2 linked regions of the Homo sapiens genome follow. The protein of the gene in region 1 purifies or fractionates together with the protein of each later gene. This does not show direct contact. Each region holds a gene or a part of one and is shown on either strand. Other genes may lie near its edges. The genes, in order: SLC12A8 and NGEF.

What was found.
Region 2: the proteins of SLC12A8 (region 1) and NGEF purify together in Homo sapiens (affinity purification with mass spectrometry; 2 studies listed by BioGRID and IntAct, with this or other methods). This does not show direct contact.

What each region holds. Positions count from the first base shown.
Region 1 is NC_000003.12:125,171,482-125,187,727, forward strand, and holds part of SLC12A8 (solute carrier family 12 member 8), read right to left. Parts: intron 15,948-16,246; coding exon 15,756-15,947; intron 6,494-15,755; coding exon 6,262-6,493; intron 1-6,261. UniProt on the Homo sapiens protein: Cation/chloride cotransporter that may play a role in the control of keratinocyte proliferation.
Region 2 is NC_000002.12:232,885,812-232,902,057, reverse strand, and holds part of NGEF (ephexin-1), read left to right. Parts: intron 1-510; exon of another isoform or gene 511-696; intron 697-7,141; coding exon 7,142-7,302; intron 7,303-9,007; coding exon 9,008-9,160; intron 9,161-10,570; coding exon 10,571-10,700; intron 10,701-13,950; coding exon 13,951-14,025; intron 14,026-16,246. UniProt on the Homo sapiens protein: Acts as a guanine nucleotide exchange factor (GEF) which differentially activates the GTPases RHOA, RAC1 and CDC42. Plays a role in axon guidance regulating ephrin-induced growth cone collapse and dendritic spine morphogenesis.

The sequences.
Region 1 (16,246 bases):
TTCACAATAGCAAAGACTTGGAACCAACCCAAATGTCCAACAATGATAGACTGGATTAAGAAAATGTGGCACATATACGCCATGGAATACTATGCAGCCATAAAAAATGATGAGTTCATGTCCTTTGTAGGGACATGGATGAAATTGGAAACCATCATTCTCAGTAAACTATCGCAAGAACAAAAAACCAAACACCGCATATTCTCACTCATAGGTGGGAATTGAACAATGAGATCACATGGACACAGGAAGGGGAATATCACACTCTGGGGACTGTGGTGGGGTCGGGGGAGGGGGGAGGGATAGCATTGGGAGATATACCTAATGCTAGATGACACGTTAGTGGGTGCAGCGCACCAACATGGCACATGTATACATATGTAACTAACCTGCACAATGTGCACATGTACCCTAAAACTTAGAGTATAATAAAAAAAAAAAAATTAAAAAAAAAAAAAGAAAATTAAAAAGTAAAAAAAAAAAAAAAAAGAAAAGAAAAGGTGAAAATTAGGCCGGGCATGGTGGCTCAAGCCTGTAATCCCAGCACTTTGGGAGACAGAGGCAGGCGGATCACCTGAGTTCAGGAGTTCAAGTCCAGCCTGGCCAACATGGTGATACCCTGTCTCTACTAAAAATATAAAAATTAGCCAGACATGATGGCAAGTGCCTGTAATCTCAGCTACTCAGGAGGCTGAGGCAGGAGAATCACTTGAACCCGGGAGGTGGCAGTTGCAGTGAGCTGAGATCCCGCCACTGCACTCCGGCCTGGGTGACAAGCACAAAACTCCTTCTTAAAAAAAAAAAAAATTCATCTTCTCTGTTCTCTCTCTCTCTCCCTCTCCCTCTTTCTCTCTCTCTCCCTGTCTGTCTCTCTCTGATTGTTTGCTCTGGGAGAAGTCAGTTACCCCTTGTCTTAAGGATACTAAAACAGCTCTCAGGAAAGAACCACATGGACCACTGAGGCCTCCTAACAAGAAGAAATACCAACTTGCCAGTGAGATCCTCCAGCCCCAATTAAGCCTTCAGATGACCACAGACCCTGAGGACATCTGACTGAACCTCACCAGAGACTCTGATCCAGGGCCGCCAGCCAAGTCACACCCAAATTACTGGCTTACAGAAAAGGCCAGAGATAACAAATGTTTATTGTTATCTTATGCCACTAAATGTTGGGGTAATTTGTTTGACAATAATAGATAACTAATACGTGGACCAATCTCCCTCTGGAAAGAAGTGGAGAAACTGAGTGAAGGAGGAGACTTTCATTCTTTACTTTACTTTTTACATTTTTACATTATACATTTCAGGATTGTTTGGAATTGTTTCGTTGTTTATATTTAAAGAAATGGGAAGAAATAAAGTTAGGCTTAAGTGTACTTTAAAAAAACTTTTTTTCTGATTTTAAGAGTAACACTGGTCAGGCGCAGTGGCTCACACCTGTAATCACAGCACTTTGGGAGGCCAAGGCAGATGGATCACCTGAAGTCAGGAGTTCGAGACCAGCCTTGCCAACATAGTGAAACACTGTCTCTACCAAAAATACAAAAATTAGCCAGGTGTGGTGGTGCATGCCTGTAATCCCAGCTACTCGGGAGGCTGAGGCAGGAGAATTGCTTGAACCCAAGAGATGGAGGTTGTAGTGAGCCAAGATTGCACCACTGTACTCCAGCCTGGGCAACAAGGGTGAAACTCCATCTCAAAAAAACAAACAAACAAAGAAACCACTGGTGAAAAGGGACAAAGTTGGAGGATAGATGCTAACCAACTTTAAGACTTACTATAAAGCTGTAGTAATCAAGACGGTATGGTATTGGAGACAGAATAGACAAACAGAGCAATGGAACAGAAAAGAGAACCCAGAAACACACAAATACAGTCAACTGATATTTGACAAAGGCACAAAAGCAACTCAATGGAGACAGGAGAGTCTTTTCAACAACTGGTGCTGGAACAACTTGATATTCATGAGCCAAAAAAAAAAAAAAAAAAAAAAACCAAAATAACCTGGACACTCATCTTACACCCTTCACAAAATATTAACTCAATCTGGATCATAGACCTAAATGTCAAACAAAACTTCTAGAATGAGAAAATCTAGGAGTTTGGCAAAGAGATTTTAGGTACAGCACCCAAGGACCCAAGGCATGATCCACGGAAAAACACTGATAAGATAGACTCCATTACAGTTTAAAACTTCTGCTCTGCAAAAGACACTGTTAAAAGAATGAAAGAACCAACCACAGACTGGGGAGAAAAAATTTGCAAAACACACATCTGATAAAGGGTTTGAATCCAAAATATACAAAGCACTCTTAAAACTCAACAGTGGCCGGGCGCAGTGGCTCACGCCTATAATCCCAGCACTTTGGGAGGCTGAGGCGGGTGGATCTCTTGAGGCCAGGAGTTCAAGAACAGCCTGGCCAACATGGTGAAACCCCATCTCTGATAAAAATACAAAAAATTAGTCGGGCGTGGTGGTGCATGCCTGTAATCCCAGCAACTTGGGAGGCTGAGGCATAAGAATTGCTTAAACCCGGGAGGCAGAGGTTGCAGTGAGCCAAGATCGTGCCACTGCACTCCAGCCTGGGTGACAGAACAAGACCCTGTCTCAAAACAGAACAAAACAACTCAATGATAGGAAAACAAACAAACAAACAAAAAAACACAAGTTTTTTAAAAGGGCAAAAGATCTTGACAAACACTTCACCAAAGGTGATATACAGATGGCAAATAAGCATACAAAAACACGTTCAATATCATACGTCATTAGAGAATCGCAAATTAAAACAATGATGAGATATTACTATGCATCTACTAGAATTACTAAAAAACAAAAACAAAAAAACTGACAATACCAAATGCTGATGAGGATGTGGAGCAACAGGAACTCTCATTCATTGTTGGTGGGAATGCAAAATGGTACAGCCACTTTAGAAGACAGTTTGGCAGTTTCTTACAAACATAGTCTTACCACATGCTCCAACAATGATGCATCTAGGTATTTATCCAAATGAATGAAAAATGTATCCTCACAAAAACCTGAACATGGATGTTTATATCAGTTTTATTAATAATTGCCAAAAACTGGAGGCAACCAAGATGTCCTTCAGTAGGTGAATGGACAAACAGTGCTACATCCAGTTTCTTTTTATTCAGTGATAAAAAGAAATGAGTTATCAAGCCAGAAAAAGACATGGAGGAATCTTAAGTGCATATTACTAGTGAAAGAAGCCAAGCTGAAAATGCTACATACTGTATGGTTCCAACTATACAGCATTCTGGAAAAGGCAAAACTATGGAAACAGTAAAAAGATCAGTGGTTGCCAGGAGTTGGGGAGCATTAAAAGGCAAAGCACAGGGAATTTTTAGGGCAGTGAAACTCATCTGTATGATGCTGTAATGCTGCATACGTAACATTGTACATTGTCAAAATCCATAGAATGTATAATACTGAGTGAACCCTAAACTATTAGCAATAACATATCAATATTGGTTCATCACTTCCAGTAAATGTACCACATTAACACAGGATATTAATAATAGGGGAAACTGTGGTGGGGGAGAGAGAAAAGGGGTATGTGGGAACTTTTGTACTATCTGCTTAATTTTCCATAAACCTAAAACTGCTCTAAAAGTGAATTAATTTTTTTTAAAAAAGTAACACTGGTCATTTGAAGGAAAAGTAGAAATAAGATAATTTAGCCACATATAATCTCAACAGAAAGATAGTTGCTATTATGCATAGTTCCTTCCAGTCTTTTTTTCAAATGTCTATGTATATGTCCTCATTTTTTAAGAGTTGAAATCACTCTGTTAAATTCATTTTGAAGGTTTATAGTTTGGTTTCAGTTTGGATTTTTAACCACAAAGAAAATATCCCATATGAAACATCAGTGATACCAAAAACAGATTCTTGAGGAGCCAGTTGCTATGGGAATGATTGAAAATAAATTTCATCTCACACTACACTCTACTAATGTATTGACCAGAAGGAAGGAAAAATATTTGGAGTAACTTAGAAGAGCAGCCAAGAACTTCTAATCAAGAAGAAGGAAAATACATCAGGCTAGTGTGAGGTTTCAAAGAAGCCAGTAGCACGGCCTTGCAATTTCACTAATTGAGCTCTTCCAGCAACCGTGTCACTGGAGGGGGAAGTACAAGGAATCAGGGACCTGAGTGGACTCTGTCTTTCCTTCACTGACAGTTTGATGAGCCAAAGGCCAGCAAGTCTCCCTCCATATGCGGGCCATCTCTGCAGGGTGGTACATGGCCAGGAAAAAAAAAAAAAAATCACTGTTTCCTTCCTGGAGATGCGTCAAATATTTAGCAAGCTGCAAAGCCTGGGCTCCAGGTGATCAGTATGGACATCACATTGGCCCTGAGCATTAGAGTGGGCCCTGGGGTTAACCCTTTAGGTGCCGGATCGTTGGGGCATCTGAAGGTTCCTGGAGAGGGACTAGGATGCCAGAGGGTAGGGGATACTCAGGGAGTTCAGGGGAGTGACAGTTTTCCAACAGAAGATTTTAACATGCTCAGAAGTAGTAAGGCCAGATCAGTGGATGCCAACCGAATGCTGACCTTCCCACAACCAACATTTTTCTAAAAGGCAGGACTGTGTAGGTGCACATCCGGGCTGGCCTCCAAGGGGAAAAGCAGAGTTGCTGTCACAAAAAGACAGCATATCATCGTGCAAAAACAGGCCCCACTTCTCACCTCAGGCAACAGCTTTAGCATCAAACAGATCTCGCTAAATAATTTTTTTTGTATTTAGTAGAGACAGGGTTTCACCATGTTGGTCAGGCTGGTCTCAAACTCCTGACTTCAGGTGATCCACCTGTCTCGGCCTCCCAAAGGGCTGGGAATACAGGCATGAGCCACTGTGCCTGGCCTGGTTTTTTTAATAGCAAGAAAATAAAAGGACACATAGGCATGGGCAAGGACTTCATGTCTAAAACACCAAAAGCAATGGCAACAAAAGCCAAAATTGACAAATGGGATACAATTAAACTAAAGGCTTCTGCACAGCAAAAGAAACCACCATCAGAGTGAACAGGCAACCTACACAATGGGAGAAAATTTTTGCAACCTACTCATCTGACAAAGGGCTAATATCCAGAATCTACAATGAACTCAAACAAATGTACAAGAAAAAAACAAACAACCCTATCAAAAAGGGGGCAAAGGATATGAACAGACACTTCTCAAAAGAAGACATTTATGCAGCCAAAAGACACATGAAAAAATGCTCATCATCACTGGCCATCAGAGAAATGCAAATCAAAACCACAATGAGATACCATCTCACACCAGTTAGAATGGCAATCATTAAAAAGTCAGGAAACAACAGGTGCTAGAGAGGATGTGCAGAAATAGGAACACTTTTACACTGTTGGTGGGACTGTAAACTAGTTCAACCATTGTGGAAGTCGGTGTGGCGATTCCTCACGGATCTAGAACTAGAAATACCATTTGACCCAGCCATCCCATTACTGGGTATATACCCAAAGGATTATAAATCATGCTGCTATAAAGACACATGCACACGTATGTTTATTGCGGCACTGTTCACAATAGCAAAGACTTGGAACCAACCCAAATGTCCAACAATGATAGACTGGATTAAGAAAATGTGGCACATATACACCATGAAATACTATGCAGCCATAAAAAAGGATGAGTTCATGTCCTTTGTAGGGACATGGATGAAGCTGGAAACCATCATTCTCAGCAAACTATCGCAAGGACAAAAAACCAAACACCGCATGTTCTCACTCATAGGTGGGAATTGAACAATGAGAACAAATGGACACAGGAAGGGGAACATCACACACCAGGGACTGTTGTGGGGTGGGGGGAGGGGGGAGGATTGCATTAGGAGATATACCTAATGTAAATGACGAGTTAATGGGAGCAGCACACCAACATGGCACATGTACACATATGTAACAAACCTGCATGTTGTGCACATGTTATCCTAAAACTTAAAGTATAATAATAATAAATAAATAAATATACATTAAAAAAAGAAAATAAAAGGACACATAGAAAATGTGCTAGGCGATGTCTGTGTGAAGAGGAGCTTCTAGCCTCATGAAGCTGCTCCAAGACACACCTGCTCACCTGATCCAGGAACAGCTCACACCAATTGTAGGTAAAGCCTATGGGGGTTAGGGGGAGATGGGGTGGGCAAACTCACACCTACAAACATCTCTAAAGCAGTGAAGATCCATAAGGCCACATACTGGACTCTGAAAGGCTTACCTGGGTCCAGGTGGGTGAAAGAACCCACCACAAAGTCCAGTGTGGACACGGCCAGCAGGAACAGCAACAGCAGCTGGAGGCGGATTATCCATTTGACACCTGCGAGGTTAATGCCCAGCAAGGCCAGAAGCACCGCAACTGAAATTCCTCGCACAGCCCAGATATTCCCGAGGCCCAGCAAATCCGAGATGGATTCAGCAAAGCCGGTGATATACATGGCACCTGCAACACACTGACATGCGATTCCAGGTAGAAGAGTCAGCAGGACAGAAAGCCATGGGCCCATGGGCAGAACCGCCCAGCGCTGAGAACCCTGCACCCCCATCGGACACACTCACTGGCACCAAGGCACAGTGCCTGGGACCAGTGCAGGGTTAAACCAGCCCTTCCCACCCGTGAACCTGCCTCAGGCCCCATTTCTACTTGTCTACATCTCAACTAAAGAATGAAGGAGGAACCCAAGCTGAGAGCTGGCTGTCAGTGATAACAAAGATGAAAAGACTATGGGAGGAAGAAGATGGGACACTGGGCTAAAGAGGCCTCCGGATTTCTCAGTCCGAGTTATTCAAGAACTAAATATAGAACAAGAACACACAGGGGGTCCCATCTACAGAGCCTTAAAAGGACACTGCAGTAAACCAGATTTTTCTTCATTTCTCTATAGGTCAGTATTATTTTTAAAATTATCTAAAACTTAGCAAAAAAAAAAGTGAGTGGCACGTCTTTTTCAACGTCATATGTGGCAAAGGCTACCCAAGGACTATCTAGGTGAATGTACTTCATTTTACTCACTATTTGCTGTTGATTAAATGCATTATATGCCCCAGATTTAATAAAGTTACATGTTACCTTATGGATTTTTTTCCAGTACAGATGCAAATAACTTCTGTCCAGTGGAACATATAACCCAAAAGATTAGGATTTGTTGTCCTGTAAGACATTAACTGATTTTCTATCTAACCCAGCAATCTTATCCTAACATTTATTTATTCAACTGCCTAGTTATGAATTTACTAATCTGACCTCTGTCCACCCAGCATCCTTTGCAGATGCTCTTTAACATCTTACTGGCTCCTCCATTAATTCATAAATTAAATAAAATCCCTGCTCCAGGTTAGGCTTCCTATGAGTATTTGTTATATAATCTTTTTTTAAAAAAATGAAATGAAATCCTTGGCACATGTTTTTCTTATATTTGCCTGAGAATCATGATTTTATCTTTTGGGAAATATTTGAAAGATCATTTCAAATTAAATTGTTGAAAATAACATCAGTCTCACTTTTCCTAATTCCTCAGCCTCAGCCTTCTTCTCTCCTCAGGTTTGTCCTTCACTGCCCCCAGGGCCAGCTGGTCACTCTAATCACTGTAGCCCTGCCCTTGCCATTCTCTGGGAACAAATTCTATTAGGGCCTCATTCGTTCAAGTCCCTCCTTTTCCATGAGGCCTCTCCTCAACCTCTTTTTCTGAATAAATAGTAAGCTAACTGCTAAGGCCATACAATTAATTATCTGGTTCCATATTCTATTATCATGTCATGAACGTAAGTTTGTCTCCCCACCCCACCACCAAGAATGCAAATATCTTAAAAAATTGTTTATGCTGATTGTACCTCTTCAAATACTTGCATTTGCTAAGTATGTTGCAAGCATTCAATAAATACTTTGTGATATGCTGATCATATAAAAGGTGCTCTGGGAAGCAGGCTCCATGAGTTCCAGCCATTTTGTGTAAAGGCAAAAGGGTAATACAACTTCTGGATTTGAAAGGAGCTTGTGAACAAGGCCCCATTCTTCAATGAGATCAGCTCACTTTGCAACTAGGCACATATCATGTTTGTCAGCATCCCCCAAATTTACACTTAGCTTAACAGTTATTCCAGCATCCCATAGTGGTAAACATTTCTGTCCATATTAGGATGAGGTGGAAAGCCCAAGAAATGTGAGGGAAATACAATCATTTCTGAGAGAGAGAGAGAGAGAGAGAGAGAGAAAGAGAAAGACAGAGAGACTAATGTTTTCCTGCATTCATCTCAGAACTCAAACTTCCTCTTTACTAAACACCAAGAGTGTGATGTGTGATAGTGACGTTATTTCATCAGTATTTGGCCAGGTCAACAGGACTCTTCATGGTCAAAATTATCTGAGCAAAATAAAAGTAAATAAAATAAATGACAAAAATGTAGCAATGGATACCATTTATATGGGCACCACTTTCCCAGGTACCTGATGTCTCTGACATGCAGAGGATGATGCCATGGGACCATCTGCATCCAAAGCTTCCAAACTGTTTTTTTTTTCCTAGCAGTAGAACAATTTGCTCACGCAATGTGAGCCAAGCTGTAAATGCTGCCTTTTGTTCCCAGTAACTCCAGTGGATCTCATCCTTCTGGTTTGTATCTAAAATTGCTTTTTAGCCCAAAGATGCCAGCAACAGGGGATGGGGCAGGGTAGGGGGTGGGGGAAGCTCCTCAGGAGGCTTGTAAGGGCATGGTGGTTAGGAGCATGAATTGCGAAGCCAAAATATCTAAGGCCAAATCCTGGCTGACTTGGGAAAGTGTTTTAACCCCTCCGTGAAATACAGATAATGATAGTAACCTTCAAAAGGTTACTGTGAGAACTAAATGAGATGATTTATGTAAAGACCTAGAACAATATCTGGCTCATAGAGTTGTAGAAACAATAGCTACCACCTGTAATCCCAGCACTTTGGGAGGCCAAGGAGAGCAGATCACTTAAGGCCAGAAGTCTGAGACTAGCCTGGGCAACATGGTGAAACTCCATCTCTACTAAAAATAAAAATAAGCCAGGCACGGTGGTGTGCACCTGTAGTCCCAGCTGCTTGAGAGGCTGAGGCAGGAAAATCCCTTGAACCCGGGAGACAGAGGTTGCAGTGAGCTGAGATCACGCCACCGCACTCCAGCCTGGGCAGAAAATAATAATAATAATAATAGCTACCGTCATTATTATGACTTTGTTATTATTCGCTGCTGAAGAAGAGGAAACAGTAGCTAGCTATGAATATCATAAGATACTTTGTTGATGCTAAATAGATGATGGTACCATCACTGGAAATTTGCAATATAAGTTGTAAATAAGGATGCTTGAAACCAAAGAGACTTACTTTAAGGAAAGCAATTAACAGTCCAAAATTAAACCGTCTTCTCACAATGAGTCTGGGGGTAGAAGTGGGGGTGTTTATGGAGAGTAGGAAAGTAAATGTATCATAGAAGTTTAATATTTTGTTGGTAGAGGAGCTAGTAAATAATGTGTCTTGGTTGAGAAGTGTAGAAAATTATGATAGAAAAGGATAAGTTTAATTATGACTTCTGAGGGTAGACTGTCACTACTAGAAGAACTAAAAGCATAGTAGAACTTCCAAATCAACCAAAATGCAATAGAAAAATAACTGACACATGTTGCCAAAGTCAAAAGAAATGAAAAATAAAATTTTATATTTTTTACAAAGTAATGAAAACGAGAATGTTTTATTCAAAAACTCAAGAGGCATAACTAAACTTGGGTTCAGAAGAGAAAAATGTATAGTCTTAAATGATTTTATTAGTTAAAAAGAAAAATAGGCCAGGCGCGGTGGCTCACGCCTGTAATCCCAGCACTTTGGGAGGCCGAGGCGGGTGGATCATGAGGTCAGGAGATCGAGACCATCCTGGCTAACAAGGTGAAACCCCGTCTCTACTAAAAATACAAAAAATTAGCCGGGCGCGGTGGCGGGCGCCTGTAGTCCCAGCTACTCGGGAGGCTGAGGCAGGAGAATGGCGTGAACCCGGGAAGCGGAGCTTGCAGTGAGCCGAGATTGCGCCACTGCAGTCCGCAGTCCGGCCTGGGCGACAGAGCGAGACTCCGTCTCAAAAAAAAAAAAAAAAAAAAGAAAAATAAAGGAACGAAGAATTAACTTCAGTCACAAAAATATCAACATAAATAAAAAGATAATAGAGAGAAGTATTTTATATAAAGAAATATGAAATTAATGAAATAGAAGAAAAAATAACAAAAGAAAAATACAAGAAACAAAAGCTGATCTTTTAAAAAAAAATTAAATAGATAAGCCTCTGGTAGCCTGATTACAAAGAAAAGAGAAAATGCAAAAATATAGACTATTAGGAAAAAAACTACATATACAGAGGAGAGTAAAGAATGAATAGAGGGCCAGGCCCAGTGGCTCATGCCTGTAATCTCTGCACTTTGGGAGACCAAGGTGAGAGGATCACTTGAGTCCAGGAGTTCAAGACCAGCCTGGGCAACATGGCAAAACCTTGTCTCTACAAAAAAATACAAGGCTGGGTGCCGGGTGCAGTGGTTTACGCCTATAATCCCAGCACTTTGGGACACCAAAGTGGGAGGATTGCTTAAGCCCAGAAGTTCAAGACCAGCCTGGGTAACATGTCAAAACTTTGTCTCTACAAAAATAATTTAAAAATTAGCTGAGCATAGTGGTGCACGCCTGTAGTCTCACCTACTTGGGAGGCTGAGGTGGGAGGATCACTGGAGCCCAGGAGTGCCAGGCTGCAGTGAGCTGTGATGGCGTCACTGCACTCCACCCTAGGCAACAGACTGAGACCCTGTCTCAAAAAAAATTAAAAAAAGAATGAATGGAGAATAGAAATGAGCCATAAATTATGGTATATTTATACTATACGATATTAAGTAACCATTTAAAAAGCATTGGTTTAAAACATTGACCAAGAGATATATCTATTACTTAAAGTGAGAACTACAAGCCATGGAATAATGTATGAAATTTGTCCCCATTTTTTTTTTTTTTTTGAGACAGAGTCTTGCTCTGTCGCCTAGGCTATAGTGCAGCGGCGTGATCTCAGTTCACTGCAACCTCTGCCTCCTGGGTTCAAGTGATTCTCCTGCCTCAGACTCCCGAGTAGCCGGGACTACAGGTGTGCATCACCACGCCTGGTTAATTTTTTGTATTTTTAGTAGGGACAGGGTTTCACCATATCGGTCAGGCTGGTCTCGAACTCCTGACCTCATGATCCACCCGCCTTGGCCTCCCAAAGTTCTGGGATTACAGGCGTGAGCCACCGCGCCTGGCCTTGGCCTTGTCCCCATTTTTGTAAAAACAAGCAAGCACTTCAAAAATCCATAAATACATGTGTATAAGCCGAGGGAAATGTTCCAAAAGAGAACACTGGGATCACCTCAAGGGTGTGGGGGAAAGCTCTTTATTTTCATTGTCTCCAATGTGTTAACTGACTACAATGAATATCATTATGTAACTGTCAAAGAATTTTATTAAAAAATACAAGCAAACATATTAAAAGTACCCTTATGTTTACGCAAAAACTAAATCAGGGTATATCATCACCCTGTCTGCCCAGGTTTAGGGAAGCAGCCCAGGACTCAAGGCCTTCGTCCACACACTCAGCAACTGCCCAGCCTTCCCTAGAGCAATCCAGCCACCCCAGAGGCGGTACCCCTTCCAACCTGAATGCTGCTTTTCCTTGGAAAACATTCCTGGTGGTTTGTTTAATGTGTAAATGTCTTAAGGGTTTGTTATACGTTAAACGTATTCTATTTCCTCCTAAATCTTAGACCAGGCATTCCTTTTCTTTTTCATTCTCCACAGAGAAAAGCCTAATTCCTTCTCACAAGACACAGTGGGTGTTGCTCACCATTTTAAAGAGAGAAGGTGGCCTATTTTCAGGGTGTAATGCTTCCATTCCAAGGTAATTCTTTTAGCAAAATTGCACCTTGACAATCACAGGCATTTTCCTTCCACCTTACCTGGAGGACCAGCGCTGCCCCTCAACACCCCTCCCCTTCTGACACAAACTTCCAGGTTTAAGGTTAAAGAGTTGGTGGATTAACACATATGTCCTGAATATGCGTTAACACCCATAACAAAAACTCCAGGCCTATATCAGGTCCATAAAAACTTTCCAGTCATTCATTGTTTTTATACAGAGTCCAGCACAAAGCATGTGAGCCACTAATGAACGTTCTTCCACGTGTCAGCACAGGCTGAAGCTAGACATTTTGGTGTTCAGGGTAAACAGTCACCAAGAACCCTCAGGCCCACACAGGTAAGTGGAGCAGGGAGTGAGGGGAGTCTGTAGTCCATCGTCTCCTCCCCTGACAAAGAGTTTGGTCCCACAGAGCAGGCCCTGCCACCAAGGCCTGAGAGGGATGAAGGGGGAAGGGTTTTGTAGGATGCAGGGCAATGACGAGCCTTTGCAAGCTTTTGTTTTACTTTTTATTATTATTATTATTATTATTTTGAAATGGAGTATCGCTCTGTCACCCAGGCTGGAGTGCAGTGGCGCATTCTCAGCTAACTGCAACCTCTGCCTCCCAGGTTCAAGCAATTCTCCTGCCTCAGCCTCCCAAGCAGCTGGGATTACAGACGTGCGCCACCACGCCTGGCTAATTTTTGTATTTAGTAGAGACAGGGTTTCACTATGTTGGTCAAGCTGGTCTCGAACTCCTGACCTCAGGTGATCCACCTGCCTTGACCTCCCAAAGTGCTGGGATTACAGGCGTGAGCAACCACGCCCGACCTGCAAGCTTTTAAAATCATTACTTTAAGTGTTAATATCTCCTCAGTTTTGATGCTCTAGGGAAGGGATTGACAAACTGGCTCACTGGCCAAATCCTTTTTGCTGATTATTTTGGTAAATAAAGTTTTATTGGGACACAACTATACCCGTTTTTTGTAAGCCATTTATCTGTGGCTGCATTCACACTACAGTGGCAGGGTTGAGTAGTTGTGACAGAGCCATATGACCCTCAAAACCCAAAATATTTATGATCTGGCCCTTTATAGAAGTTTGCTGACCCCTGCTTGGGGGTAAAATCAGGGAATCTGTTTTGACAATCATTAGAAATAAATGAATGCACACATGCCCTGGAATGAGGGCTGAGGGAGTTAATAAGAACAAGGAATAGGGAGCCTCAAAACCCCAACCGCACCCTAGAGGAAGGAGGAGCTCAAATCAATAACCCAACCTGTCACCTTAAGAAACTAGGGAAAGATGAGCAAAGTGAACCCAAGCAAGCAGAAGAAGGAATCAATAAAGGTCAGAGCAGAAATGAATTAGGGATCAGAAAAACAATAGAGAAAATCACCAAAACCAATAATTAGTTCTTTGTAAACACACCTTTATCTAAGCTGATCAAGAAAAAAGAAAGAGAAGACATTATTTAAATTAGGAATGAAAGGGGAGACATTACCACCAAACTTACACAAATAAAAAGGACTATAAGAAAATCTATAGACAATTAATATGCCGATGCATTAGATAACCTACGTGAAGTGGACAAATTCATGGCCGAGCACAGTGGCTTACGCCTGTAATCCCAGCACTTTGGGAGGCCGAGGCGGGCGGATCACCTCAGGTCGGGAGTTCAAAACTAGCCTGACCAACATGGAGAAACCCCATCTCTACTAAAAATACAAAGTTAGCCGGGTGTGGTGGCGCATGCCTGTAACCCCAGCTACTCGGGAGGCTGAGGCAGGAGAATTGCTTGAACCCAGGAGGTGGAGATTGTGGTGAGCCGAGATCACGCCATTGCACACCAGCCTGGGAAACAAGAGCAAAACGGCGTCTCAAAAACAAAAAACAAAAAACAAAACAAAATTCCCAGATTAAAAAAAAAAAAAGAAATGGACAAATTCCTAGGAAGATATAAACTATCAAAACTAAATCAAGAAGAAGTAGAAAATCAGAATATGCCTATATAAGTAAAGAGATTCCATTAGTAACCAAAAAACTTTCTATCAAAAAAAACCCAGGACCAGATGGCTTCATGGCAAAATTCTACCATATGTTTAAAGAATTAACACCAACCCTTCACAAACTCCTCCAAAAAATAGAGAAGGAGGGAACACCTTCCAACTCAGTCTACGAGGCCAGAATTAGCCTGACACCAAAACCAGACAAAGAATCACAAGGAAACTACAGACCAATATCCCTCATGAATATATACACAAAAATCCTCCACAAAATGTTAACAAACCAAATTCAGCAATTTATAAAAAGGATTACACACTAACCACACCCTGATCAGGGACTCCTGGCCCGCGCCAGCGACAAACAAAGCACAGGCACTCCAGAGACAGTGACCAGGGGGACTCTAATGTTTGGGACCAGGGCCCAAGTGGAAAGGCAGGAAAATAGCTGGGATGCTGGTGCAGTGGCGTCTCAGGCCGTGGCTGCCAGCACTTAGAAAACATCTTATCTGTGAACATCTTTTTTCCAAATCAGCCCATGTAAGTGGGACTCTCAGCAGCACAGATGCCTGTCTTTGTCCAGGGGTGTTCACACCAGTGCCCATCCATGGCATCTGCCTCTAGAGGCTCACTTGGTGTCTGTACCGAGAGGGGGAAAGCAGGATTTTGCCTACCTTGCAGCCTGGTTGGCTATAAAATAGCAGAGAAGTAAAAAAAAAAAAAAAATTTATATACCAAGTCCCCAGGGTAATAAAGTAAACTGACCATTTATTACTCCCCTCTCCAACTACTATACTTAAATAACTTTCTGCAGTCAAGGCAAGTGCTTTTTAAGAGTGCAGAGGCCATCTGTTTGCCTTTCCTGCACTGTCTTAGACACACACAGGCACCCCCACCGCCCACACATGCACACACGCAGCTCTGTGCTGTTCGAGAATCAGATATATTTATGCTGAAACACCCTGCTCCTGCTGCCTAAAAATAAAAGAAACAAAACCGATGCTTTCTCTGGGGAGATTCTTGCACACTCTAACTTAGACAAATTCTTCTCTTTAAACTGTTTTTTCAACCACCCACCACCATTTGCACTCTCATAAAAGCCTTTTTCAATCCAAGAAATGCTGACAAAGAACTGCTTCTTAATGTCTGTACTTTGTTCCCTCAGCATTAAGTCACCATGCCTGTGTTTTAGCTAAAAAAGCCTTAGGATTTCCCCCTACTCGCTCGTTTTCGGAGTGCCTCCGTCCATTCTGATGAAGCACACTCCTCATTAACATTCTCCCTCTCAGACAGGGCGTCCACACAAGAGGCTGTCAGCCTCCCTGTGAAGGCCACCCGAGCTATCAAATGCTCCCGGGAGCTCCTGCTCATTTGAGAAGTGCCTGCTTCTAGGAAAGCCCTTTGGCACAGGCAAAATACCCATCTTCAGTAAAAAAGCGTCCCAGGGCCCAGGCCACCTGGCTGCCACCTGGCTGCCACCTGGGCTTCAGCCACTGTCATGCAATCTGGTCCCCAGATTGAACAGCAAGAATGTGCTGGCCAGGCCCTGCCCTGCTGGTCACATCAGGCATCCAGGAGGCGGGAGTGGCAGAGGGAAAGGAGTGCTGGACTAAGAGGTCAGGCCCTGGATAGTGACTTGACTCTCTGCTGAATTCCCTTCAGAGCCCCAACCTGCTCGTCTGTCACATGCGGCAATTGTCCCCACCCTCGCTTCTCCCCAGGTCAAGTGAGGAAATGGACAAGAAGAAAGTGGCAGAGGGCCAGGCAGGGGAAGCATCCCGGGCGCAGGCCTCACCTGTCCAAACACATAGAGCAGCCCGATGGTGCCTCCCGTCTGCCCACCCAGGACCGAGGAGATCATGGAGTAGACGCCACCGCTGCCGATGCTGCTGCGCTCCCCGACGCCAATGCCAGACAGCACCGTGACGAGGGCCACCAGGATGACGAAGGACACCAGGAACATGCCCAGGAGCACTCCTGTGTTTCCCTGCAGCAGAATAGCAAGGAGCAAGGTTGGATTAGGTGAGGAGGCCCCGCCAGCTCCCTGCTGGGGGCATTGACCACCTCCCCTCCTCCCACAGCACTGGAATAGGGGCCAGGGGTGGGGGCACAGAGTCAGGACAACTAAAAAGGACAAAGCAAGCACCACAACAGCCAAGGCCAGGAAGAAGTTCTAAGTGAAAGGAAGCGTCCTGGCTGCAAATTCTTCAATGACTCTCCCACCTATAGGGTACAGTCAGAGCTGCTGATGCCCTCACGAGGTGCCTCCTAATCTCACTTTGTGCC
Region 2 (16,246 bases), on another chromosome or scaffold:
CTGGCTCTGGCTCTGGCCCCAGCTGCTAGAGGAGAGAGAGGAGTGGGCCATGGTGATCCCCGTACCACACACACCCCAGCCACTGCCCTGCCGAGGACAGACTGAGGCCGGGTCTTCAGCGGCCCAGGTGGCCCTGATAGCTCCCAGCAGCATACTGGAGACACGGAGCCTGGATGGTAGGGCCTGTGCTGAGGTGTCACGGCGACGTCCCCACAGCCTCTAAGGGAGTCCCGGAAGGACGCCTTAGACCCTTGGCATTCTGCCTGGCCTTCTCTTCATCCCCTCCCTCCCTCCAGGCAAAAGCCAGTGAACTAAGTTGGGCTCCAGGCCAGTGCCCTGATGCCCAGGACTGGGGGTGACCTGTGTGGGGAGGGCCTGGCACACGGGTGGATGGGAAGGGACCTCGCAGAACCCTTGTGGGGAAGGGGCTACGTTTTGTTTCCTGGCCGTGAGGAAGGTGGAGGGCAGCCAGTGAGCCCGCCCTTCAGTCCACGGTCTGCTGGCCTTTGGCTCCGACCCCCGCAGATGTCACCCTGGTGACGCAGCTGCAACAACGCATCGAAGGTCACAGCATCAGAGACAGCAGTGATTTGTTAACACAGGGGTCGGGAGAAGCCAAAAAAACAACCCAAATCAGGCTGGAATGCACGGCCCAGAGGTCCACGGCGAACCCTGGATCATAAGGAGACCGTGTAGGTAAAGAGCGGGGAGGAGAAATCGCGCAGCCTCGAGCTTTGCTGAGGGTGGGGAACGCAGGGTTGATCCGAGTGCGGAGGCAGGAGTGGGACTCCGAGGACAGACACTGTAGTCCCGGCCGGCCAGGCAGCATGGCCCATGTTTGACCGTGAACTGCAGGACAAGCTGAACTGCCTTAAGTAACAGGGAATTGGGGCCCGCGGGCTGCGTAAAAGCCCGTCGCTCTTTGGGTGTTAGAGCTGGTAAAGCTTCCGCCTTTCTCCATCAGGAGCAGGTTGGCTTCCTGCAGACTTTTCTTGGTGTCCTGGTTCCTCTTTTGTGACCTCTTGCTGATGGGTCTCTTTTGTTTTTCAAATGTGTGACTTGAACAGGGTGGTGTAGGCGGCCCTAACTCCGGGACCTGGCTGATCTGAGGCCGCCGGACGTCACCACCCCAGAGCAGCCCCGTGGCCCGCGCTGCCTGAGAGGGGGCCTGCTCACCTGGCTTCAGGTCCTGGTCCTGGCCCCACGGGCAGCGTGGCTCCCAGTGCCTCTGTGGGTGATTGTGTGAGAGCATGTGTGTGTGTGAGTGAATGTGTGCATGAGTGTGAGAGCGTGTGTGTGTGAGTGAATGTGAGTGAACGTGTATATGAGTGACTGAGAGCGTGTGTGTGAATGTGAGTGAACGTGTATATGAGTGACTGAGAGCGTGTGTGTGTGAGTGAATGTGAGTGAACGTGTATATGAGTGACTGTGAGAGCGTGTGTGTATGTGAGTGAACGTGTATATGAGTGACTGTGAGAGCGTGTGTGTGAGTGAATGTGAGTGAACGTGTATATGAGTGACTGTGAGAGCATGTGTCTAAGTGAATGTGAGTGAACGTGTATATGAGTGACTGTGAGAGCGTGTGTGTGAGTGAATGTGAGTGAACGTGTATATGAGTGACTGTGAGAGCATGTAAGTGAATGTGAGTGAACGTGTATATGAGTGACTGTGAGAGCGTGTGTGTGTAAGTGAATGTGAGTGAACGTGTATGAGTGACTGTGAGAGCGTGTGTGAGTGAATGTGAGTGAACGTGTATATGAGTGACTGAGAGCGTGTGTGTGTGAATGTGAGTGAACGTGTATATGAGTGACTGAGAGCGTGTGTGTGTGAATGTGAGTGAACGTGTATATGAGTGACTGTGAGAGCGTGTGTGTGAATGTGAGTGAACGTGTATATGAGTGACTGTGAGCGTGTGTGTGTGAGAATGTGAGTGAACGTGTATATGAGTGACTGAGAGCATGTGTCTAAGTGAATGTGAGTGAACGTGTATATGAGTGACTGTGAGAGCGTGTGTGTGTGAGTGAATGTGAGTGAACGTGTATATGAGTGACTGTGAGAGCGTGTGTGAGTGAATGAGTGAATGTGTATATGAGTGACTGTGAGAGCATGTGTGTAAGTGAATGTGAGTGAACGTGTATATGAGTGACTGTGAGAGCATGTGTGTGAATGTGAGTGAACGTGTATATGAGTGACTGTGAGAGCGTGTGTGTGTGAGTGAATGTGAGTGAACGTGTATATGAGTGACTGAGAGCGTGTGTGTGAGTGAATGTGAGTGAACGTGTATATGAGTGACTGTGAGAGCACGTGTGTAAGTGAATGTGAGTGAACGTGTATATGAGTGACTGAGAGCGTGTGTGAGTGAATGTGTGTATGAGTGACTGTGAGAGCATGTGTGAGTGAATGTGAGTGAACGTGTATATGAGTGACTGTGAGAGCATGTGTGTGTGAGTGAATGTGAGTGAACGTGTATATGAGTGACTGTGAGAGCATGTGTGTAAGTGAATGTGAGTGAACATGTATATGAGTGACTGTGAGAGCATGTGTGTGAAAACCAAAGGAGACCCCTGACCCATCAGCAAGAGATCACAAAAGAGGAGCCTGAAGAAAGCCCAGGCTGGACCGGAGTTGAATCTTCACAAGGAATCCAGGCCAGGAATGGGCTTAGGAAAGCCAGGAAGTGTGACGTGAATACTGGCAGATAGCAACAGAGCTGAGAGCGCCATTCCCAGACCAAGCAGAGATTCAGACAGCCGGGTCCAGGCTACATGCGCATTCCCTGAGGAGGAGCTTCTGTAGTGACACGTACGTTCACACGCCCCCCTCATATGCACACATTCACACACACAGTCACATACTCTCATTCACACACATTCACACTCACCTTCATACACATTCACCCACTGTCACACACTCTCATACTCTTTCACACACATGCACACATTCACACCCACCTTCATACATACTCATTTACACATTCACACACAATGCATTTACACACACATCCACACATCCACACCCACCCTCATATTCACTCACACATGTTAACACACATACACCCATTCACACTCACATTCACACACACACATGCATTCACACACACATTCACTTACATGCTCTCACAGCCACACCCATATACACATTCACCCACAATTTCCCACACATGCACTCTCATTCCTTAATGCTCACACCCTGACTCGCGTATGTCTATGCACACATACACTCATTCCCACTCGCCCTCACAGGCTCACACTTCCTTCCACTACCCTGGGACGAAAGTGCCATGGGAAGCCAGTCTTGCTGTGTTCACAGCCGAGTGCCCAGTGCCTAGACCAGTGCCTGGTGCTCAGCAGATGCTCAGTGAGCATTTGTGGAACGAAGGAACGAACGAGTGAATGAATGAAGAGCGAGCAGAGCCTGGATCCCTCGTCAGCTCTATGCTGCCATGTAGAGGCTTAAATGAGAGCAAAAGTAATATCGATAAGGAAAAGATAGCCATATCGACATGACAAACAATTTGACATACAAAATGAAGACAAACATCCTGGAAGCTAAAATTCACAGGTGACGTTGCCTGTAAATGGATGAGGAGGGGTGAGAGTTCTGGGGAATGAGCCTCAGCCATACCGATTAGCAGGGATTCAGGCCAAGGCCCACAGCTGAAAGGCCCTACCTGCCATTTCCCCTGGCCCTGAAGATCAGGACAGAGATGCTGTCGGCCAGAAGATCCGGGTGATCCAGAGCCAGGGTGTCATCCCAGGTGTCTCTAGCAGGCATCCTTCAGGGCCATGTGGTTTAATGGCATGCTTTTCTGTGATGTGGCGCTGTGGGCATGGGGGTTTTCCCCTTGGTATCATTCGTATCAGTTTTGTGAGTTATGTTTGCTTGGAACTTGTGAGCTGTAACTGCTTCACATTTTCTTAGGAAACTTAAATTTAGCAGCAGGAAAATGAATTCATAACAGCATCTGTAGCTGAGAAGCTTCTGGGAAACTGGCTGCCCGTCATAGCCTCACTTTTGTGTCGGTGGACACTGGCCGACTCGGGGTCTGCTGCCAGTCAGCGCTGGGCTGCAGGTCTGCTGCTGTGAGGCCCGCTGCTGTGTGCTTGCTGTGGCTGCTTTTTAGGTAGATGAGGCAGATGCGACGTGGGGATGGCCACGGAGAGGCCACAGGCTCATTTCAGCGTCTCGTCTCTGACCGTCGCTGTCTCAAGTGAGGTGCTGCTGTGTGCTTGCTGTGGCTGCTTTTTAGGTAGATGAGGCAGATGCGACGTGGGGATGGCCACGGAGAGGCCACAGGCTCATTTCAGCGTCTCATCTCTGACTGTCACTGTCTCAAGTGAGGTGCAGACACTGGGGGCCGGGTGGGCCCTGGCTACTGATGGTGGTTCGGGGTCTGCAGTTGGCCGCTGGCCCTGGAGTGACATCAATGTGAACTCTCTGTGGGGTGTTCCCAGCTTCCAGATTCGTCCCTTATTTTAGAGTGCTCTGCCAGGTGGGTGGGTGGGCAGAGCTTTGCAGGGAAGCAGCAGTGAGAGCTCCTGCAGGCGGGCATCAAATGCCCAGCAAACCCCTGCGCTACCTGGGAGGTGGCAGCATCTCCACTCCTCCAGCATCCAGCCATGTGACTTTCTGGATGCAACTTCACTTCTCTGTGTCTGTTTCCTTTTGGTAAAATGGGAGCTTCTGTCTGTCCTTTCTGGGGGACCTGGGAGGATTAAGTGAAACAGCCTGCAAAACCCCACCACTCCAGGGCCCACTGTGTTCTGGGAACAAATGCCTCTAACCCTGGAGCTCCTGCTTTCATGCCAAAGCCCTGGGCCCTGGGTCAGGGCTCTGATGAGTGGAGAAACCGGAGGGCGGCCCTAAAAGGAGTGAGGCAGGGGATGGGCAGGACCCTGGGGAAGGGGCCAGACCCCCACCTCCACCCCCTACCCCATCCCTACCCTCACCCCTTCCCCCACCCCATCCCAACCCTCACCCCTCACCCCACCCCTACTCCCACCCTTACCCCTAACCTCACCCCCACTCCTACCCCCACACTCGCCCCTACCCTCACCCGCACCCCTACCTCACCCTTAACCCCACCACTACCCCCATCCTCACCTGTACCCTCACCCTCACCCCTACCCTCACCTCATCCCTACCTTTACCCTTACCCCCACCCTCACACCTACCCACACCCTCACCCCTATACCCACCGTCACCCTCACCCCCACCCTCAACCCTACCCTCACCCTTACCCCTACCCTCACCCCTACCTTCACCCTCACCCCTACCTTCACCCACGCCCCTAACCTCACCCTCACCCCTACCTTCACCCTCACCCCTACTTTTGCACTCACCCCTACCCCCACCCCTACCCCCACCCCCATCCCTACCCCCACCCCCACCCCTACCCCCACCCCAACCCCTACCCTCACCCCCACTCCTACCCTCAACCCCAACCTTACCCTCACACCCCTACCCTCACCCTCACCCCTACCTTCACCCTCACCCCTACCCCACCCTCACCCCTACCCTCACCCCCACCCTCACCCTTACCCCAGGCTCCTCACTGCTCTGTTTCCACCCCTCCTCTGTGGCCATAACAAATTACCAGAAACTGGGTGGCAGAGGATCACAGGATTGATTCTCCCACAGCCTGGGCAGGCTGTGCTCCCTCTGACAGCTCTGCAGAGGATCCTTCTGGCCAACTCCAACTGCTGGTGGCTGTATCAGTCCCATCTCTGTCTGTGCCTTCTCTGTGTGTCTGTGTCACATTATTAAATCTCCCTTGGCCTCTTTTATAAAGACACCCATTATTGGTTTGGGGCCAACCTTAACCCAGGATGATCTCATCTTGAGCTCCTTGACTCAATTATGTCTGCACAGACCCTTTTCCCAAATAAGGTCCCATTCACAGGTGCTGGGGTTAGGACATGGATGTAGCTTCTGTGGGGGCCACAGTTCAACCCACTCTGCTGTCCCTCCTGGGAAGCGACTGTGGGACCTGAACCCGCCCTAAGTATCAGAGGGTGACGGGGAAGAGGAAGGTGGGTCATTGGGTTGATTTGTAAACAAGGGAGGAAGGTGAGCCGGGATCTGCCACCTGCCCTTACAGAATGACCCATGAGATGCAGAACTGCTGTTAGATCCTAGTCAGCTATTCAGAGGCTCAGCAATCAGGTGATAATCATGACATCGAATAAAGGCACCTCCAGAAAATTGATCAGGTTATGGATTTCTTTCTCTCTTCCAAAATGAAAATCACCTTATTGGTTCCATTATAAAATCAGACCATGATATATGTTCATTGTTAAATTATCAGGCGATTCAAAAGGTAAAAAGGTAAACATCCCCCCAGATTCCACCCGTGACACTCGTGCTTGACACTGGCCGGTTTCCCCTGACGCTTTTCTGCTGGGCGTGGAGGAACAGGATTCCTCCCACCTGCTGACTTTCGCACCCACTAGCACACCCAGAGCATGGGCCAAGCCACCCTTGGCAGCTGTGCGGGCTCAGGTGTGTGGCTGACCTTTTTTTTTTTTTTTTAAGACAGAGTCTCACTCTGTCACCCAGGCTGGAGTGCAGTGGCGTGATCTGGGCTCACTGCAACCTCTGCCTCCCAGGTTCAAGTGATTCTCATGCCTCAGCCTCCCAAGCAGCTAGGATTACAGGCATGTGCTACCACACCCAGCTAAGTTTTGTATTTTTAGTAGAGACAGGGTTTTACCATGTTGGCCAGGGTGGTCTTGAACTCCTGACCTCAAGTGATCTGCCCGCCTCGGCCTCCTAAAGTGCTGGGATTACAAGAGTGAGTCACCACGCCCAGCCTGACCTCTCTCGTTTTTGTCTTGTTTCATATTTTGGATCTTAGGCTATCTCCAGTTGTCAGTATGGTAAGTGTTCTCTCACAGGGAGTAGCCTCCGTGCCCTGTCACCTTAGGGGTAGTGTGCTCCCTAGGAAGAGTGGCCTCACTACCATTCCCGGCCGCAGGTGTTACCAGCTGCCCCTGCAGCAGCCATCCCAGGCCCCAGGAGCAGGCGATTTTTCCCTTTCAACTCCCTGCTGAGCCTCCCTCTGCTCCTCTGTCTCAGCCAAGGCTAGCGCCTTCGTGGAAGGCCAACTTCAGGCGGTAACCATGGGGTCTCCCTGCTACAGGCCATGTTCGAGCTGGTCACTTCCGAGGCGTCCTACTACAAGAGTCTGAACCTGCTCGTGTCCCACTTCATGGAGAACGAGCGGATAAGGAAGATCCTGCACCCGTCCGAGGCGCACATCCTCTTCTCCAACGTCCTGGACGTGCTGGCTGTCAGTGAGCGGTGAGGACGGGGGGGACAGCCACCTCCCTCAGGGCCCTTCTTCATCCCCAGGGCACATGCTTGAGACACTGATGACAAGTGCTCGATACTGGCTTCTCTACTTCCAGATGTTTGGAATGTTCCATAATAAAATATAAATAAATGAAGAACTAAATCCAAACCTCACCACCCCTTCTGGCAGGGTGGCCAGTCACGTCCCCCGGCGTCCCTTCCCATGAGCACCTGTGCCCCACACAAAGCTCTGCGCTGAGCATCCTGCTGGCCCCAGGTTGGAGTGACGCTGAGTCCAGCTCTCTCATGCATCAAACCGGTGGTTGGACAGGTTTAAACCAGGCAGGTCCACGGGAGTCTTGTGACAGGGACAGAAGGTGTCCATGTAAGCTGCTCCTTACCCTAGCAGAAAGCCCCAGTGGCGCATGCAGGGCCTCAGGCCCTGTGCAGGGTGCAGCCCTGGATTCCCACATCCTCACCTCCTGAGTGCGTTTTCCACAGCTCTGGGAGCTGTGCTTCCAGCAGGGACTGTGTGAAGCCTGGGCCGAGCTGCAGCGGAGGAAGAGTAGACAGACATCTGCCCATTGAATCCTTTGAAAAGGAAAGGAACCAAATCATGTGGCCAGGATGAAAGAGCACTTACCATCCCCAGGGCAGGCCATGGAGTTTTGCAGCCAGAAGCCACATGGGGCTCAGCTGGGACAGTGCCTGGTGATCAGATGGGAAACCAAGGTGGGGCCCGGCGCAGCCCCGCTCTGAGCAGTGGGGATCCGCTCAGCATCACATGTGGCACCCTGGGAGCTGCTCACTCTCTGTGGGCCTCCAAGTGGGTCTCTCCTCCACACTGACACTCTCACTTCTGTTTGCAGCCCCCTCACCCCTTCGTGGCAGCGCCTTCTGGTGGGTTTGGGAGGTGATGGCTGACTGGGGCCAGAGTGGCCTGTGAGACCCCTGGGCTTCTGCTGCGGCACTTCTTTTTTATTTTTTTTGAGACAGAGTTTCACTCTTTTTGCCCAGGCTGTAGTGCAATGGTGCGATCTCAACTCATGGCAACCTCCGCCTCCTGGGTTCGAGCGATTCTCCTGCCTCAACCTCCCGAGTAGCTGGGATTACAGGCGTCCACCACCACACTCGGCTAATTTTTTGTATTTTTAGTAGAGACAGGGTTTCACCATGTTGGCCAGGCTGGTCTCGAACTCCTGACCTCAGGTGATCCGCCCGCCTCGGCCTCCCAAAGTGCTGGGATTACAGGCGTGAGCCACTGCGCCTGGCCCTGCCACGGCACTTCTGTCTTATGTATTTGTATTTTACTGTGGAAAATTCCAAACATGCAGAGGTAGATGTCCATGTGCGCTGCTCACCAGCGTCAGCAGTGGTCAGCCCAGGGGCCAGTCCCTACCCCCCAGGGGACCCTTCTGAAGCAGATCCCCATGGTCATCTATTTTATCCTCAAACACATCAGCACATACCTGAAAGATAAGGTCTCTTGGTGCTCCCAGCACCATCAGCCCCGTGAAAACACAGTCATTCTTCAAGATGACCAAATACACCACCAGTGCTCGGTGCCCCTGCCGATGGATCTTGTCGGCCTGTACGCTCACCGTGCACACTGCTATGTCCAATGTCCAAGTCAGGCTCGCATGCTGCCCTTGGTGAGACAATTCCCCACCCTACCCCCCGGGCACCCTCCGCCTCAAGCCGCTGCCTCTCGTAGGTTCCTCCTGGAGCTGGAGCACCGGATGGAGGAGAACATCGTCATCTCTGACGTGTGTGACATTGTGTACCGTTATGCGGCCGACCACTTCTCTGTCTACATCACCTACGTCAGCAATCAGACCTACCAGGAGCGGACCTATAAGCAGCTGCTGTGAGTGTATCCGGCAAGGGGCTCAGGGGCAGGGGGAGGTGCCCGGGGCAGCCATACCAGTGCTGGCCCAGGCTCCTTACACGGTGACACTTCATGGTCCTTTACCTCTGCGTTCCCAAGGTCCACATGAGCCACCGGAGTTGGCCAGGGATACTGGTGACAGTGTCCCAACCCAGCACGTTCTAGGGTGTATTGGTGTCACTAGAGAAACATTAGCCCAGCCAGACCCCAAGAGAATCAGCGTAGCATCCACTGGACCTGGATCCAATGGCTGAGCAGAGCACTGTGCAGTTAGAAAAGAGAGCTTGAGGTCAAGTGAGGTCATGTGGACAATTCAAAGCCCAGGACATCAGAGACGGGGCTTGAACTAGCGACAAGGGCAGGGACAGGATGGGAAGGAGCCTCGGTGGGGCTCCTCCAGCAGCGCCGGGGCATTGATTGCTAATCTGCCCATTTTGTAAACTTTCTCTGAGGTTTAGTTGACAAGGTAATTTTCCAGCCAGCGTGCCTCTTCTGAATTCTGCGCACTGAGGTTCGCACTTCAGTGCCTGGGGTTAGCCAGGGAGGCCGTCTTGGCTCCGCACAGAAGCACCCAGGGAGTTTTCCAGTTGTGGCGTCTGCACATTGCGCCTCACTGGCTTTTCCACCAAGACATGGAGTTCATGGTGCACGTTTCAAGCCTGAGTCTTTGGGCATTTGGATGTTTTAACAGTTGGTGAAGGAAAATTGGAATTGGAGGGAATGAGGATGCAATTTTTGAGGATAAACATTGAGAAGGCAAGCATGTGGCAGATTAGGAATCATTCACAGCACCCAAGAGCCTGCCGCTGTGGCCCCCGCCAGGCCGTGTGAGCACAGAGGCTGAGTGACAGGCTGAGCACCTGTCCCTGCCGTCCCTGCTGTCCCTGCTGTCCCTGCCGTCCCTGCCATCCCTGCTGACATGCATGGGGCCGAGCTCACCTCCAGCTCTCCCAGCCCTCATCAGCGCTGTGGCCCAGCCCACCGCTGAGCCCACCTGTCAGAAATAGTGCAGGCTGTCCTGGTGGTGTCTCTAGCCTGCTGCCCGTTCCTGTCACTACGTGGGTTTACCTTGCCACAGTTTCCCGCTGGGTGAAATCATCTAATTGTGCATCTGATTCACAGACTTGGCCACACAAGGAATCCTTATCCTCCCACACACAGCAGCATATTGTGCCAAGTCTTCAAGGCCAGGCATGTGAAGCCACTATTGTTATTTGACTTTTACGTGAACAGTCTATTTTCCTTTTGAAAAAAAACAAAGAAAGAAATCAACATGTTTTCTGAGCCCGTGGGTCGTCTGGATCCTGGGAGGCTGTGGATGGGGAGGAGGAGTCTCCAGTTCATGCCTCCTGCAGCTCAGAGACCTACTCCACCTGTCTGTGTCCCCAGCCAGGAGAAGGCAGCTTTCCGGGAGCTGATCGCGCAGCTAGAGCTCGACCCCAAGTGCAGGGGGCTGCCCTTCTCCTCCTTCCTCATCCTGCCTTTCCAGAGGATCACACGCCTCAAGCTGTTGGTCCAGGTACAGCCTCCTCCACCTGACCCACAGACGGGGCTTCCCAGGCTTTGCTGTGGTCATTCCCGGGCCCTGTCAGCTTTCTAGGAGGTCTACTGGTTCAACAGATACTAAGCTCCTCCCATGTGTGCCAAGCACGTTCCTGGGCAGTGAGGATGCAGCGCCTGCTCCCAGGGAGCCCATCGCAGAGGGGAGAGACCGAACCATGCACAGCCAGGAAGTGGGCATGGCCCTGGGGACAGCCAAATGGGCCGACACGACAGGGGTGGCTGGCTGGCCACTGCCAGTTGCAGCGATGGGGGCGGGTCAGGAAAGACACGTGACGTGTAAGCTGAGACCTGGCTGACAGGGAGGAGCTGGTGGGGGCAGGTAGAGGAAAGAACATTCCACGCAGAGGGAACCGCTTGTGCAAAGGCCCCAAGACTGCAAGGTTCATGGACAGAAAGGCCAGCAGCGATCTCGGGAACATGACGGGGACGGGAGTGGGTGTGGAGATGGGGACAGAGGCAGTTCCAGGGAAGACATTGGGTCCTGTCCTCAGTGTGATGGGAGTCACCTGATCGGACCCACTTTTAGGAGCTGGCCCTGGCTGCTCCAGAGGGTGACGGAAACGGGGAAGGGGTTACACTGGCCTGTGGGGCTGGGTCGGGGAGTGGGGGCCCGGCAGGGATGTCAGGGAATTGAAATCAGTGACTTGCTGAGAGAAGGACTGAGAGTGATTCCTCGGCTTTTACCTTGAGCAGTTTGGGGGTGTGCAGCCGTTGCTGAGATGGGGACGTCTTGGGGCGGGGAGGGCTCAGGATTCAGGGCAGGATGAACTGAGTTTGAGATGACTTTGGACAGTTCAGTGTCAGAGGTCAGAGTTAAAGGGAGAAGTTGGGCAGGACTCGCTGGCATCAAGGTGGTAATTAACCGAAGAGGCCGCCAAGGAAGGAGAGAAAGGTGCCTGAGACCAAACTCAGGGACGCAGCCAGGCCTGGGAAGGAGCAGCGGTGAGGGAGGTGGAAACCCACAGAGCTGGAGGCATGGGAGACTCAGGGGGATGGGGCTTCCAGAAAAGGGAGGCTCCAGCCAGGCCCAGAGGCAGGCCCAAGACCCCCTCCACCTGACAGGCCCAGTGAGGCAGGACAGAGACCCCCTCCACCTGACAGGCCCAGTGAGGCAGGACAGAGACCCCCTCCACCTGACAGACCCAGAATCAGGACTGAGACTCCCTCCGCCTGACAACCCCAGTGAGACAGGACAGAGACCCCCTTTGCCTGACAACCCAGTGAGGCAGGACCGAGACCCCCTCCACCTGACAGGCCCAGTGAGGCAGGACAGAGACCCCCTCTGCCTGACAGATGCTGGGGCCCTGTCTACTGATGCCCTGGGCAGAGGGAGCCATTGGCAGCTGGGCTGGTGAAGTGGACGGTATAGAGTGCAGCTGTGGCCCTGAGGAGCATGAGCTGAGGGGGACCTGGGAGCCACAGGTAGCAGAGGTCAGAGGTCAGACAGGTGAGAGGCCAAAGACCTAGGGGCAGCTACTCCAGAAAGAGCAGAATTACAGAGAGGAGGCCTGACCCAGGAGGAAAGGGTTTGGGAGCATGAGGCCAAGGAAGCAGTTGTCAGGAGAAGCCCCTGGCCCAGGGCTAATGGAGATACGAACGTGAGGGCAAAGCCGGGATGGCGACCCCAAACCGGAAGACACCTGTGATGAACGCAGTTCCGTGGGAAATATTTTTTTAACTTGGAAAAAGTGAAACAGAAGACAGTAACATTTCCTAATTATGCAGTGAAAAATATTTTAGGACATTTTATAGGGAAAGTGCATATATGAATATATTAAAACCTTAGCTTCTATAAGATGAAAACCAACAGTAAGATTAAAAGCAATGGAAATGCAGTGATTAGGAAATGGTGGAATGGGGACAGCTGGGGTGGGCACTCAGGGAAGGGCTCAGAGAAAGGGGTGGCGGGTCAGGGACCATTCCAGAGAGAACGGCAAGTCTCCACATCAGGCAGCATGCTGGGGACACACCGAGTGGAGGCTGGCGTGGGAGAGCACGTGCCAGGCTAAGGAACCCATACTGCCCTCCATCTGAGGCCACCAATGCCACCTGGTCAGATGCAGCTTTTATGCCTGTGAGAAAAGATGGCGTCTAAACCGTGCTGTTCAGCAGGGATTTGGAAGTAGGGGGACAGTTAATGACAGGCATGGTGGCCACATACAGGATGGAAAAAGCAGGAAGGTGGCTGTGGGTCTCGAAGGTCTCTGGCTTGGCTGCCAGGCAGAGGCGGGCAGGTGACCACAGGAGAGGCCTGGGCTGCTGTCAGGGGAGACATCTGTGCTGCCGTGGCACCCAGCAGCCGGGAGGACAGGTGGTTGGTGCCCAGATGCACCCAGCCTACTTACAGGACAAAAGCCAGTCAGAAAACGTGGGCATGGTGGGGACCGCTAAGAGGAAACCATGTGGAGTTTATAGAGCAATGTCAAAATCGTAATTTACAGGTGAAAGCAGTATGGGCATAATTTTTTGTTAACTGAAGAAAATTGAACAGTTGGAGAAGAGACTCTTTCTTACACTTTCATGGAGAAGACCAAAGTTAACAAAGTTTCGGGGCCAAATGACAGTCCCAGGGAGGAGAGGGAAGCCCTTGGTCCCCCTACCCCTGTCCCGTAAGCATTTAGCTCCCCTTGGGGACAGAGCTGACCCTAAGCGTGACAGTCCTCACTGCTGGGTGCCACACCTGCGGGCTCTCTTGCTCTCCATTTGTCAGATGGAGGCTGTGTGTATGTGTGTGCGTGCATGCGTGTGTGTGTGCAGGTATGCATGTATGTGCATGCATGTATGTGTGCGCACACATGCTTGTATGCATGTTTGTACACGTGTGTACATGTGTGTGCACTGTGCTTGCAAGTGTGCATGCATCGTGTTGTGCATGTGTGAGCATGTATGCACGTGTGTGCATGCATGTGTGCACGTGTGCTTGTATGCATGTTTCTACACGGTGTGCATGTGTGCACACTGCTTGCAGGTGTGCATCATGTGCATGGTGTGCATGTGTGTGCGAGCATGTATGCACGTGTGTGCACACGCAGGTCTGTATGCATGTGTGCATGCATGTATGCGTGTGCGTGCGTGCGTGTGTGTGTGTGTGCATGCTGCAGCATGGGGCTGGACTGGTGCAGTAGGGAGGTAGTCACGGTCAAGGTGGGAAATGGGAGGAAAGACCAGAAAAGATTAAAGTTAACGCAGCCTTTCTCTGTGCATAGAACATCCTGAAGAGGGTAGAAGAGAGGTCTGAGCGGGAGTGCACTGCTTTGGATGCTCACAAGGAGCTGGAAATGGTGAGTCTCACCTCCTCTTGTGCTGTATCCCAATGCACTGTTTTCCTCATCCAGGCACACCTTTCCGGCCCTGCTCCCCACATGTCCGTGTGTCTTTTTAGAATATGCAAATTTATTTTAAAATTCACTTTTGCAATCAAAAGAGTCACTGGGGCTTAAAAAAATACACCAGGCATGGCTTGGGTAGAGAGCCTTCTTTACCCTGCTTCCTGGCTCCAGCCTTACGTACTCACCGCCTGTCTTGTTACTGTGCCTGGCATGGATGTGGGGACAGCAGCGTGGCTCTCAGGACATTCTTCACCAGTGTGGAGCTCTGCGATCATGCACAGGCCCTGATTCCTCTCATCAGCTCCCTGGGATTGTTCTTTGCAGGCATCTGGGGCCCACACAGACCCCAGGCTTGTCTTTGCCTGTTTTTCCATGTCAGAAACAGTCTCTCCTCCCTCCTGTGAGGCTCACCGAGGCTGGTTCCCACTTTCCCTGTGCCCTGATGAAGCCCTTTGCTCCGAACCCAGCCCTCCACGCCACTCTCCCAGTCCCCGGAGCTCAGTCACCCCTGTGCATCTCTGTGAGGGGATTCACTGGCCCTGCCCAAGAGCCCTGGGCCTTTGCTGCCCAAGAGTGCAAGGACCATCTCTCCAGACCATCTCCTGACCCTCAGAGAGAGACGGCTCCTCCTAGAGGTTTGCAGCAGAGCAGGGGTTTTGCGGGAAGGGCCAGCGAGTATGTTTCAGTCCTCAGGAGCTCTTACCATGCGCTCTGCCACGTTTGGCTCCTGGCATCAGCTGGAGCTGAGAGCCAGCTTTTGACAGCTGTGCTAGGGCACCTCCATTGAGCCAGTGACGCCGTCATGGTGGAGAGCAAGGCGGGGGATGTCCATATTCCACTTCTTTGTCACCCCATGGCAGAAGCTTAGTAAAAAGAATATCACTCTCAGTGGGCATCTGATGGTCATTCTCAGCCACATTGAGACATGAGGACTTCCTACCCTATTGCAGTCGGTTCCCACCTCGGGCCACTCCTCCTGTCCCTTTCCCAGACCAGTTGGCCACCAAAATTCCTCTGGCAGTTACACGCTGTGCCTAGTGAGGAAAGGCTGGAGCCTCAAGCAGGGTAGCCAGGGGGCATCCGCGACCTGTGAGCCAGGCAGCATCTCTAGGGGCCCATGCCCACCTCTGGAAGCAGAGCTTCCCTTTTACCTGATTGGATGTGAGTTCATTCCAGCCACCACCAGACAGCAGCCACACGGGGCCACCATGGCCCGTGAGGGGCCCACGTGCCCCAGAAGGCTCTCCCTGAGGTCAGCCCTGGGCCAGGGGTATGTTTTCTGTTTTTAAAGTTCTTTTCTGCTTTCATCTTCATTTTTCTTATAATGAAAGGTATTCTCTGTTTCTAATAGCTTTTTTTTTTAAAAATGAAGGTTTATTTTTTCTCTGATTTATGAAAGTAATTATACTCAATACCAGGAAACTCAGAAAATGCTTGTAAGTAAAAAGAAAATAAACTTCACTAGCCACCTCGCCCTCCCTGCCGACAGGCTGCAGCTCGCCCTAAACAGACGCCTGTGCACACACACCTGTGCACAGCACACTCGCAGGGCACACACTGCACACACGGCACACGCACAGCACATACACGCCCATACATATCACACACAATACACACCGCACACACATGGCCCCTCATCACACAGTACACACTGCACACACACACAGCACATACCACACACAGTACACACAGCACGCACACACACATACACGGCCCCTACATATCACACAATACACACTGCACACACACACAGCACATACTTATCACACACAGTATGCATAGCACACACAGCACACATGGCACATACATATCACACACAGTACACACCGCACATGCATACACAGCACACACTGCATATACACAGCACACACATGCACACATGGCACACACAGCACACACACCACTGTATTCTTTACAAAAAGGGCTTGTGGTTTAGAAACAGCTTTGCCCCGCATTCGAGTGCAGGTGGAGTCCCTGCCTCTTTCCTGGATTTCTGTTCTTGCGTATCTGCATAGATCATAACTATTTTAATCGAATCCACTGATGGCTGTTGAGGCTGGCGAGCGTGTTTCTCACTCCAGACAACATGGCAGGGAGGCCCTCGCGCACACTTCCCTGGACATGGTGCTCATTTATGTGCCCTGAGAGCCTGCGGCGAGCCTGGCCCTGTGCC